Regions from separate parts of the Homo sapiens genome. Here regions 2 and 3 are each linked to region 1. The links come from fine-mapping of genetic effects on gene expression. A gene starts in region 1. Each other region holds a variant in brackets. All regions are shown on one strand. Distances are from middle to middle.

Region 1 (4,246 bases):
ATAAAATCCCAATGCATCTGGAAGGGGACCATTCTTTTTTTTTTTTTTTTTTTTTTTGAGACAAGTCCTCATTCTGTTGCCCAGGAGGCTGGAGAGCAGTGGTGCAATTTCAGCTCACTGAAACCTGTGCTTTCCCAGACTCCAGCAATTCTCCAGCCTCAGCCTCCAGAGCAGCTGGGACCACAGGCATGCACCACCATGCCCGGCTAATGTTTTTTGTATTTTTTGTAGAAATGAGGTTTTGTCATGTTGCCCAGCCTGGTCTTGAACTGCTGAGCTCAAAGCGATCTGCCCACCTCGGCCTCCCAAAGTGCTGGGATTATACATGTGAGCCACTGTGCCCAGCCAAGAAGACCATTTTTATTTTTTGAGGAAAGGTCTCACTCTGTCGCCCAGGCCAGAGTGCAGTGGCTCGATCATGGTTCAGTGCAGCCTCAACCTCCCAGGCTAAATCAATCCTCCCACCTCAGCTTCCCGAGTAGCTGGAACCACAGGCGTGAGCCACCACACCCTGATAATTTTTAATTTTTTTGTAGAGACAAGGTCTCAACATTTTTCCCAGGCTGGTCTCGAACTCCTGAGCTCAAGCAATCCTCCAGACCAGGCCTCTCAAAGTGTCGGGATTAGAGGCAAGAGCCACCGCACCCAGCCAATTTTTTTTTTTTTTTTTTTTTGAGACAGATTCTCACTGTCACCCAGGCTGGAGTGCAGCGGCACAGTTTCGGCTCACTGCAACCTCCGCCTCCCAGGTTCAAGCAGTTCTCCTGCCTCAGGCTCCCAAGTAGTTGGGATTACAGGCATGCACTACCACGACTGGCTAATTTTTGTATTTTCAGTAGAGACAGGTTTCGCCATGTTGGCCAGGATGGTCTCGAACTCCTGACATCAGGTGATCTGCCCGTCTCAGCCTCCCAAAGTTCTGGGATTACAGGCGTGAGTGAGAAGAGCACAGCATCAGAAACTAGGCTCTCACAGATTCCACTTCTGCACAGATCCTTTATGTAGGAAGACATTAAATGTGGTAGAGGAATTCTCATAGAACCTACCTCTTTGCCCTTTGTGGCACCTCCTTCTGCCCATTCCACTGAAACACAGGATTTCTCCAAGTTCACAGTCCTTACATTGGCACTGTGAATTAAACCTATAAAGTATGAAAAAACCAGAGTTACCCATCTCTTTCCTGAGAGCTTCACTTTTAGGATTCCACAGAGATTCCCAAAGTGGAGTTAACCTGAAGGAACAGGCAGCTACCTTAAAAAAAAAAAAAAAAAAAACTAAGAGAAACAAATAAATCTCCTGGGCTTCACCTTTAGAATATCCACAGTGAGGTGGGCTGGGGACAGGTTTTTAAACTGAGCTGCATGGGATAAGGATTCACCCCTACTCAAGAGAGCCTACAAAAAAAGAGAGATAGAGCCTACAAAAGAGAACATACAAAAGGTATGTTTGAGCACAGGATTCCCCACAACCCTTAGATGAACTTTTCCTCAACATAGCATTGAGGATCTGGCCCTTTTGGGGTTTTCCTAACTCATTTCTGGCGGTCATATCTGTCCATTTCCCTAATGACACGGGTATCAGACCTGCCAGAACTGCGGTACCTGCTTAAGCAAAAGAGAGAACGACTACAAGCTCCTCAAGCGCAGGGTTCTTGTCTGTCCCGTTTACCTGACATACCGCAACTGCGCAATATTTATTCGAGAGTAAAGGGGCCAGGAGACCGAGGTCCCCATAAGAGCAGGGCATTTTCAGGGGAGAATTTTGGAAGGGAAGTGAATTTAGAAGTCCCAACTTCCCTGGGAGGTCTACCAGCCTTGGAGAAGGTCCGCCCACTCCCAGAGGACTGCGAAAGGGACCACGTACAGCGCAGGGACTCTCACCCCTGTGTAGGCAAGAATGACTGCCAGTGCAGAGACCCGGAGTGAGTGCGTGTGAAAAGGAGGGAGGGAGAGAAAGAGAGTGAAAGCCCATCTGTGTGTCCGGGGACGGGCAGTAATTTCAGTCGTCTCACCGCTCACGAGTCCCCTTGACCTAGGGACCCCGCTCCTCACCATTACTGCGTTGGATCTTGATAGCGAGACCGGGAAACAGGCGGGCCTGAAGCGACGAGTCCATGGCCATTCGGAGAGTCAGCAAGGAAGAGAAACGCGCAATACCAAGAAACCTCAATTTCGCTAACCCTACGAAGTCTTAACGCCGCGTAAACCGCCGCAGTTTAAATCCCGCGCGCAAGCGTCCTTAAAACGTCATTCCGCTGTCCCCGCCCTCGCTTCCGCCAGTCAGCGGCGCCCTGCGGAGCCTTGGGGGAGACGCAGTTCCCAACCATCTTCCTACGCTTGGCACCGCCCATGCGTCTGGCCACACCCCCGAGCGCTGTGCCTTCTGGGAACTTCGCCGCTACGTGGGGTCTGGGGCTCCCATTTCTGGTATTGTCCTCGGTCACCTTGTACTGCGGGGTTCCCGAAAACTGGGAAACTTCAGTATGTATTTGACAATGAGGGCTCTGGGATCCTACAGACATGGGTTCGAATCGTAGCTTCTTCAATTGCAAGTTCAGTGACCTCGAGCAAGTTGGAGACTTGGCCGGGCGCGGTGGCTCACTCCTGTTAATCCCAACACTTAGGAAGGGAGAGGTGGGAGTGATCGCTCGAGATCAGAAGTTCGAGACCAGACAGGGCAACATAGCCAAGACCCTGTTCTCAAAGCAAAACAAAACCACAGATTAGAAACTTGACTTAGTTTTTCTTATTAAATAGTGCAGAAGCATGTTGCCTCATTCAAGGAGTTATGTATAAATTTCCAGAAAGACACTGATTCACCAGATATTTATTGAGTGAAGTCTACCACCTGCTAGGCATGGTACCAGGAAATGGAGATAATGAACTAGACACATAGTTCCTGTCCTCCTTTTTTTTTTTTTCCATTTAACCCTTAGTGGACACAGCACATGTTTCAGAGAGCACGGGGTTGGGGGTAAGGTTATAGATTAACAGCATCCCAAGGCAAAAGAATTTTTCTTAGTACAGAACAAAATGGAGTCTCCTATGTCTACTTCTTTCTACACAGACACAGTAACAATCTGATCTCTCTTTCTTTTCCCCACATTTCCCCCTTTTCTATTCGACAAAACCGCCATCGTCATCATGGCCCGTTCTCAATGAGCTATTGGGTACACCTCCCAGATGGGGTGGCGGCGGGGCAGAGGGGCTCCTCACTTCCCAAATGGGGCAGCCGGGCAGAGGCGCCCCCCCCCCCCACCTCCCAGACAGGGCGGCGGCTGGGAGGGGGCTGCCCCCCACCTCCCAGACGGGGCGGCTGGCCGGTCGGGGGCTTTCCCCCCACCTCCTGGACGGGGCGGCTGCCGGGAGGAGACGCTCCTCATCTCCCGGACGGGGCGGCTGCCGGGCAGAGTGGCTCCTCACTTCTCAGACGGGGCGGCCAGTCAGAGACGATCCTCACCTCCCAGACAGGGTGGCGGCGGGGCAGAGACACTCCTCAGTTCCCAGACGGGGTCGCGGCGGGGCAGAGGCGCTCCCCACATCCCAGACGATGGGCGGCCGGGAAGAGACGCTCCTCACTTCCTAGACCGGGTGGCGGCCGAGCAGAGGCTGCAATCTCGGCACTTTGGGAGGCCAAGGCAGGCGGCTGGGAGGTGGAGGTTGTAGCGAGCCGAGATCACGCCACCGCACTCCAGCCTGGGCAACATTGAGCACTGAGTGAGCGAGACTCCGTCTGCAATCCCGGCACCTCGGGAGGCCAGGGCTGGCAGATCACTCGCGGTCAGGAGCTGGAGACCAGCCCGGCCAGCACGGTGAAACCCCATCTCCACCAAAAAATACGAAAACCAGTCAGGTGCGGCGGCGCGCGCCTGCAATCCCAGGCACTCGGCAGGCTGAGGCAGGAGAATCAGGCAGGGAGGCTGCAGTGAGTCGAGATGGCGGCAGTACAGTTCAGCCTCGGCTTGGCATCAGAGGGAGACCGGGGAGAGGGGGAGGGGGAAAGGGAGAGGTTTTTTTTTTTTTTAATTAGAGACAGTGTCTTGCTATGTTGCCCAGGCTGGTCTTGAACTCCTGGGCTCAAAGATCCTCCCTCCTTAACCTCCCAAAGTGCTAGGATTACATGTGTGAACCACCAAGCCCGGCCTCCTGTTCTTGACGATCTGCCTGCCTCAGCCTCCCAAAATGCTGGTATTACAGGCATGAACCACTGTGCCTGGCCAGGAAAGGTCTTGTTTGAAGAACTGATG
Region 2 (4,246 bases), 54 kb before region 1:
TATATCTTTATATATTTATATATTATATTTATATATCTTTATATATTTATATATCTTTATATATTTATATATCTTTATATATTTATATATCTTTATATATTTATATATTTATATATCTTTATATCTTTATATATCTTTATATATGTTTATTTATATATATTTATATATGTTTATATATTTATATTTATATATTTATATATATTTATATATTTATATTTATATATTTATATATATTTATATATATTTATATATTTTTATATATTTATATATTTATATATATTTATACATTTATATATTTATATATATTTATATATATATTTATATATTTATATATATTTTTTATATTTATATTTATATATTTATATATATATTTATATTTATATATTGTTATATATTTTTATATATATTTATATTTATATATTGTTATATATTTTTATATATTTATATATTGTTATATATTTATATATTTATATATTGTTATATATTTTTATATATATTTATACATTTATATATTTATATATATTTATATATTTATATATATTTTTTATATTTATATTTATATATTTATATATATTTATATTTATATATTGTTATATATTTTTATATATATTTATATTTATATATTGTTATATATTTTTATATATATTTATATATTGTTATATATTTTTATATATTTATATATTTATATATTTATATATATTTATATATATATTTATATATATTTATATATTTATATATATTTATATATATTTATATATATTTATATATATTTATATATTTATATATATTTATATATATTTATATATTTATATTTATATATTTATATATTTATATATATTTATATATATTTATATATTTATATATTTATATATATTTATATATATTTATATATTTATATATATTTATATATATTTATATATTTATATATATTTATATATTTATATATATTTTTATATATTTTTATATATTTATATTTATATATATTTATATATTTATATATATTTTTTATATATTTATATATTCATATATATTCATAAATACTTATATTTATTTATTTATATATGTATATATGTATATATTTATATATTTATATATATTTATATATTTATATATATTTTTTATATATTTATATATTCATATATATTCATAAATACTTATATTTATTTATATATTTATATATTTATATATATTTATATATTTATATATTTATATATATTTTTATATATTTATATATTTATATATATTTTTATATATTTATATATATTTATATATATTTATATATATTTATATATTTATATATATTTTTATATATTTATATATATTTATATATATTTATGTATATATTTATATATTTGTATATTTTTATATATTTATATATTTATATATTTTTATATATTTATATATATTTATATATATTTTTATGTTTTTATATATTTATATATATTTATATATATTTATATATTTTTATATATTTATATATATTTATATATATTTATATATTTATATATATTTATATATTTATATATATTTATATATTTATATATATTTATATATTTATATATATTTATATATATTTATATATGAATTTTGGAAGGGGGCACAGTTCTGCCCATAATGGCCTCTTAATTATATCACCAAGTCTAGCAAGATCTAACACACTGTGTTTTTTTGTTTTTTTGTTTTTGACAGAAGGTTTCACTCTGTGGCCCAGGCTGGAGTGCAGTGGCATAATCATGGCTCCCTGAAGCCTCGACCTCCCTGGCTCAGGCAATCCCCCCAACTCAGCCTCCCAAGTAGCTGGGACTACAGCTGGTGCATACCACCACACCCAGCTTTTTTTTTTTTTTTTTTTTTTGAGACAGAGTCTCGCTCTGTCACCCAGGCTGGAGTGTAGTGATGCAGTGACAGGATGGCAGATCACTGCAACCTC[C/T]GCCTCCCAGGTTCAAGGGATTCTCCTGCCTCAGCCTCCCGAGTAGCTGGGATTACAGGCACGCACCACCATACCCAGCTAATTTTTTTTTTTTTTTGAGACGGAGTCTCACTCTTTCGCCCAGGCTGGAGTGCAGTGGTGCCATCTCGGCTCACTGCAAGCTCCGCCTCCCAGGTTCACGCCATTCTCCTGCCTCAGCCTCCTGAGTAGCTGGGACTACAAGCGCCCACCACCGCGCCCGGCTAATTTTTTGTATTTTTAGTTGAGACGGGGTTTCACTGTGGTCTCGATCTCCTGACCTCATGATCCACCCGCCTCGGCCTCCCAAAGTGCTGGGATTACAGGCGTCAGCCACCGCGCCCGGCCTTTTTTTTTTTTTTTTTTTTTTTAAGGCAGAGTCTGGCACTGTTGCCCAGGCTGGAGTGCAGTGACACAATCTCAGCTCACTGCAACCTCCGCCTCCCGGGTTCAAGAGATTCTTGTGCCTCAGCCTCCTGAGTAGCTGGGGTTACAGGCCCCCGCCACCACGCCTGGCTAATTTTTGTATTTTTAGTAGAGATGGGTTTCACCATGTTGGTCAGGCTGGTCTTAAACTACTGACCTCAAGGGATCCGCCTGCCTCGGCTTCCCAATGTGCTGGGATTACAGGCATGAGCCACTGAGCCAGGCCAGTTGTTCATTTTTTCAACAAACGTTTTCTTGAGCAGCCTCTATGTGTCAGGTCCTGTGCTGCACCCTGGCGTGACCTGTCGGTAGGACAAGGACACTGGACTGTAATTAGTGCTAAGTGGTGAAGACAGACAGGGTATAGAGGTGGCCTATGGGAGCCCAGAGGTGGGATCACACCCAGTTTGGGGAATGTACGTAGGCTGAGATTTCTAAGTTGAAACCTGAGAGCTGAGGAGGAGTTAGCCAGGAACAGTAATGGACAGGAGGAGAAAGTATTCCATAAGAGGAACCCTGTGCTCCTTAAGGCATGGAGTGAGAGCTGTTGGTCCTTGAAAAAGCTGAAAGTTCAGAGTAGCTGGAGGAAAGGGGAAGGGTGACTGGAACAGTCCAGGGGCCAGAACTCCAAAGGCTTTGCAATGTGTGTGGAGGAGTGAAGGTCTACTTGCCCCTTCCCCAATTTGCCAAGTTCCCAAGCTGACCTAAGTTTTGAATTTGGTGAGTTCAGGTGAAGTCTGACAATATAGCCAGGGAGTGGGTCTGGAAAGTTAGTGGGAAGGAGGGGCCAGGACAGGCTCCTTGCAAGAGAAAGCTGATTTGCCCTCCTGGCCTGGTTCCCTAGAGCCTCCTCCGCAAAGCTGAGGAGCTCCTGCCAAGCACGTAGGTGCTGAGCCTAAGACTGGGTTCCCTTCTCTTCCCAGGCTGGGATTTAAGGTTGAGCTCAGGCTGTCTGATCCATGGCCATGTTACCTCTCTAATCTCTGCCACACAGGACCCTAGCCAGGGGCCACTACTCAGGCACAAAATGAAATCCCATCTGGCCTTTCTTGCTGTTGTCTTGTGGCTTCCTCAACTGGCTGGGTGGGCCCACACCCAGGCTGGGGCTGTGAGCTTATTATCTTGTCTTCCTCTTCTGTCTTTTGTTGTTGTTTGTTTGTTTGTTTGTTTGTTTGTTTAGATGGCGTCTTGCTCTGTCACCCAGGCTGGAGTGCAGGTGGTGCAATCACAGCTCACTACAGCCTCGACTTCCTGGCTCAAGCGATCCTCCAACCTCAGCCTCCAAGTAGCTGGGACTAGAGGCATGCGCCACCACACCCGGCTAGTTTTTTGTATTTTTTGTAGAGATGGGGTTTTGCCATGTTGTCCAGGCTGGTCTCGAATTCCTGGACACCGTGCTTGGGCCAGAATCTCTTGAGTGTCAGGTCACAGAGGCCAACGGAGGAGGGTCAAGAACAAGAGATGCCAGGTAAGGTTAGGACTTGGGAAGGGCTATTGGCTTCAGCAATAAGGAGATGGCAGGTGTCCTTGGTGGGTGCAGAGGTGGAAGGGATAAAGCCAACCTGAAATAAGAGATGTGCTGATAGCCACGGTAGCACTTCCCACTCACCTGGTGCTATTGTGAGCACTTTATACTATTAACTCACCTAATATGCGCAACGACTCCATGTGATAGGCATTATCATCCCCGTGTTCCCATGGGGAATTTTTTTTTTTTTTTTTTTGAGATGGAGTCTTGCTCTGTTGCCCAGGCTGGAGTGCAATGGCATGATTGGGGCTCACTGTAACCTCCACCTCCCAGGTTCAAGCGATTCTCCCACCTCAACCTTCTGAGTAGCTGGGATTACTGGCTCCTGCCACCAAGCCCGGCTA
Region 3 (4,246 bases), 32 kb before region 1:
GCGTGGTGGCGGGCGCCTGTAATTCCAGCAACTCCGTCTGGAGGCTGAAGAAGGAGAATCACTTGAACCGGGAGGTGGAGGTTCCAGTGAGCCGAGATGGCACCAATGCACTCACTCCAGCCTGGGTGATGGAGTAAAACTCTGTCTCAAAAAAATAAAATACACAAGTTATTATTGATTATAGTCACCCTGTTTTGCTATCAAATAGTAGGTCTTATTTATGATGATATTTTATTTTTGTACCCATTAGCCATCCCCACCATCCCCACTTCCCCCTACCCTCCCACTACCCTTTCTAGCCTCTGGTAACCATCCTTCTACTCTCTAGGACCATGAGTTCAATTGTTTTGATTTTTAGATCCCACAAATAAGTGAGAACATGCGATTCTCTTTGCATAAGTGTGTTTTTCTGTGCCCAGCTTATTTCACTTAACATAATGACCTTCAGTTCTACCCATGATGTTGCAAATGACGGGATCTCATTCTTTTTTATGGCTGAATAGTAATCCATTGTACATATGTACCACATTTTATCCATTCATCTTTTTTTTTCTTTTGAGACGGAGTCTTGCTCTGTCACCCAGGCTGCAGTGCAGTGGCATGATCTCAGCTCACTGCAACCTCTGCCTCCCAGGTTCAAGCAATTCTCCTGCCTCAGCCTCCTGAGTAGTTGGGATTACAGGCATGCGCCACCATGCTTGGCTAATTTTTGTATTTTTAGTAGAGATGGGGTTTCACCATGTTGGCCAGGCTGGTCTCGAACTCTTGACCTCAGGTGATCTGCCCACCTCAGCCTCCCAAAGTGCTAGGATTACAGGCGTGAGCAACCACACCTGGCGCCATTCGTCTTTTTTAACTTTAATTTTAATTTTTTTTGAGACAGTCTCGCTCTGTTGCCCAGGCTGGAGTGCAGTGGTGCGATGTTGGCTCGCTGCAACCTTCATCTCCTGGGTTCAAGCAATTCTCCTGCCTCAGCTTGCCAAGTAGCTAGGGTTACAGGCATGGGCCACCATGCCAGCAAATTTTTGTATTTGTAGTACAGATGGGGTTTCACCATGTTGGCCAGGCTGGTCTTGAACTCCTGACCTCAAGTGATCTGCCCGCCTACGCCTCCCAAAGTGCTGGGATTACAGGAGTGAGCCACCGCGCCCAACCTGATTTCCTTTCTTTTGAGTATATACCCAGCAGTGCAGGAACCTCCAAACTGTTCTCCATGGTGGTTGTACTAATTTACATTCCCAACAACAGTGTACGAGCGTTCCCTTCTCTCCACATCCTCGCCAGCATTTGTGATTGCCTGTGTTTTAGAAATAAGCCATTTGAACTGGGGTGAGATGATATGGTAGTTTTGATTTGCATTTCTCTGATGATCAGTGATGTTGAGCACCTTACATATGCCTGTTTGCCATCTGTATGTCTTCTTTTGAGAAATGTCTATTCAAATCTTTTGCCCATTTTTTGATCAGATTATTAGTTTTTTCCTGCTTAGAGCTGAGCTCCTTAAATATTCTGGTTGTTAATCCCTTGCCAGATGGGTAGTTTGCAAATATTTTCTCCCATTCTGTGGGTTGTCTCTTTACTTTGTTGATTGTATCCTTTGGTGTGCAGAAGCTTTTTAACTTGATGTGATCCCATTTGTCCATTTTTTGCTTTGGTTGCCTGTGCTTATGGGGTATTGTTCAAGGAATTTTTGCCCAGACCAATATCCTGGAGATTTCCCCCAGTGTTTTCTTGTAGTAGTTTCATAGTTTCATAGTTTGAGGTCTTAGATTTAAGTCTTTAATCCATTTTGATTTGATTTTTGTGCAGTGCTGTACATGTTCAGAGAAACTTCCCTAGCAACAAACTA[T/C]AGAAATGATCCCTAAAGTATAGTGTTTAACATTTCTTATAAAGAATATGTAGGAGGCCGGGGTGGTGGCTCACGCCTGTAATGCCAGCATGTCGGGAGGCTGAGGCAAGTGTATCACGAGGTCAAGAGATCAAGACCATCCTGGCCAACATGTTGAAACCCCGTCTCTATTAAAAATACAAAAATTAGGCCGGGCGCGGTGGCTCACGCCTGTAATCCCAGCACTTTGGGAGGCTGAGGCGGGCAGATCACGAGGTCAGGAGATCAAGACCATCCTGGCTAACACGGTGAAACCCCATCTCTACTAAAAATACAAAAAATTAGCCAGGCGTGGTGGCGGACACCTGTAGTCCCAGCTACTCGGGAGGCTGAGGCAGGAGAATGGCGTGAACCCAGGAGGCGGAGCTTGCAGTGAGCCAAGATAGCGCCACTGCACTCCAGCCTGGGCGACAGAGAGAGACTCCGTCTCAAAAAAAAAAAAAAAACAAACCAAAAATTAGCTGGGTGTGGTGGTGCGCACCTTAGTCCCAGCTACTTGGGAGGCAGGAGAATCGCTTGAACCCGGGAGGCGGAGGTTGCAGTGAGCCAAGACCACGCCGTCACACTCCAGCCTGGCGACAGAGCGAGACTCCATCTCAAAAAAAAAAATATGTAGGAGCCAGGCATGGTGGTATGTGCCTGTAGTCCTAGCTGCCCGGGAGGTTGAGGCTGTAGGATTGCTTGAGCCTGCAATTCAGGGTCACAGTGAGCTATGATCATGCCACTGCACTCCAGCCTGGGCAACAGAGCAAGACCCTGTCTCAAAAAAAAAAAAAAAAGAAAAGAAAAAAGAAAATAATTGACCTAAGCAGCCTCTCCAGCTGCCTATTAAAAAAAAAAAAAAAGAAAGAAAAAAATACAAGAAAAAACATAGGTCCAAGGCTTTAGGAATATCTACATTTCGGCTGGGTGCGGTGGCTCACGACTGTAATCTCAGCACTTTGGGAGGCCAAAATGGGCAGATCACCTGCGGTCAGGAGTTTGAGACCAGTCTGACTAACACGGCAAAACCCCGTCTCTACTAAAAATAACAAAATTAACCAGGCGTGGTGGCACACGCCTGTAATCCCAGCAACTCAGGAGGCTGAGGCAGGAGAATCGCTTGAACCCAGGAGGCAGAGGTTGCAGTGAGCTGAGATCGCACCATTGCACTCCAGCCTGGGCAACAAGAGCGAAACTCCATACCCACCCCGCAAAAAAACAAAGGAATGTTGTCATTTCAAGGCCAGATAGAGAAAGATAGCTGGCAAAGGACACAGAAAGAGAAATTAGAGTGACTAGAGGAAAGCCAACACAGGGTGCTGCCGTAGCTTAATGCTGCTGTGAATGCTAGTTAAAATGAGACTAAAAAGTGATTATTAGGCCAGTGCGGTGGCTCACGCCTGTAATCCAGCACTTGGGGATGCCAAGGGGGTGGATCACCTGAGGTTAGAAGTTCGAGACCAGCCTGGCCAACATGGCGAAACCCCATCTCTACTAAAAATACAAAAATTACCTGGGTGCAGTGGTGGACACCTATAGTCCCAGCTACTCTGGAGGCTGAGGCAGGAGAATCGCTTGAACCTGGGGGGCAGAGGTTGCAGTGAGCCGAGATCACTCCACTGCACTCTAGCCTGGACGACAGGAGCAAAACTCCGTCTCAAAGAAAAAAAAAAAGGTGATTATTGGATTTAGTAACCCGAAAGTCCTTGGTGATATTGGCGAGAGCAGTTTCTGTACAGTACAGTGGGAAAAAACTTGAAATAGAATGGGAAGTTAAAAAATCCAATGTATGTAGACAATTATTTTGAGAGGTATGACTTTAAAGGGGAAAGAGAGAATTAGGTTGTTGGCTGGAAAGGAATGTAGAGCAGAAGGGTAGTGTTTTCTTTTTTTTTTTTTGAGACGGAGTCTCACTCTGTTGCCCAGGCTGCAGTGGTGCGATCTTGCCTCACTGCAAGCTCTGCCTCCCGGGTTCATGCCGTTCTCCTGCCTCAGCCTCCTGAGTAGCTGGGACTACAGGTGCCCAAAACCACGCCTGGCTAATTTTTTGTATTTTTAGTAGAGATGGGGTTTCACCGTGTTAGCCAAGATGGTCTCGATCTCCTGACCTCATGATCAGCCTGCCTCGGCCTCCCAAAGTGCTGGGATTTCAGGCTTGAGCCACCACGCCCGGCCTTTTTTTTTTTTTAATTTTAGACACAGGGTCTCATTATACTGCTCAGGCCACAGTTCTGAGTCTGCTTTCTAAAGCAGCAACACTCTCTCATCTTTCTCTACCCACTTACTACCTATCATTTGTTTACATGCACATTATCTGTCTTCTCCACTGAAATACTATGTGCATAAGGGTAGAAACTTAGTCTTATTCACTGCCAT

Direction of the effects. Positions count from the first base shown, and alleles are read on the strand shown. Sizes are in standard deviations (SD) of each study's normalised expression. Not every link is listed here.
As copies of C replace T in region 2, the expression in thyroid of the gene that starts at base 2,217 in region 1 goes down (small effect, 0.37 SD a copy in GTEx).

What was found. PIP is the estimated chance that this variant, and not a neighbour inherited with it, causes the effect. A credible set is the group of variants that fine-mapping cannot tell apart.
Region 2: its variant is the best candidate, but not a certain one, in a credible set for the expression of KIF2C in thyroid (GTEx, PIP 0.54).
Region 3: its variant is the best candidate, but not a certain one, in a credible set for the expression of KIF2C in whole blood (INTERVAL, PIP 0.81).

The regions. Positions count from the first base shown.
Region 1 is chr1:44,737,808-44,742,053 of GRCh38, reverse strand. It overlaps KIF2C (kinesin family member 2C), which reads right to left and starts at 2,217. Exons shown (of 21, transcript NM_006845.4): 1 at 2,052-2,217; 2 at 1,047-1,141. The coding sequence starts at 2,121. RefSeq lists an enhancer at 2,397-2,566.
Region 2 is chr1:44,792,279-44,796,524 of GRCh38, reverse strand. It overlaps a transcript of BEST4 not described here. Among named protein-coding and RNA genes, the nearest start is that of PLK3, 6.0 kb to the left of the region's middle. RefSeq lists enhancers at 2,781-3,470, 4,163-4,246. The variant C/T (reference allele first, on the strand shown) is at 1,931.
Region 3 is chr1:44,770,273-44,774,518 of GRCh38, reverse strand. No RefSeq gene overlaps it. Among named protein-coding and RNA genes, the nearest start is that of RPS8, 3.1 kb to the left of the region's middle. The variant T/C (reference allele first, on the strand shown) is at 1,850.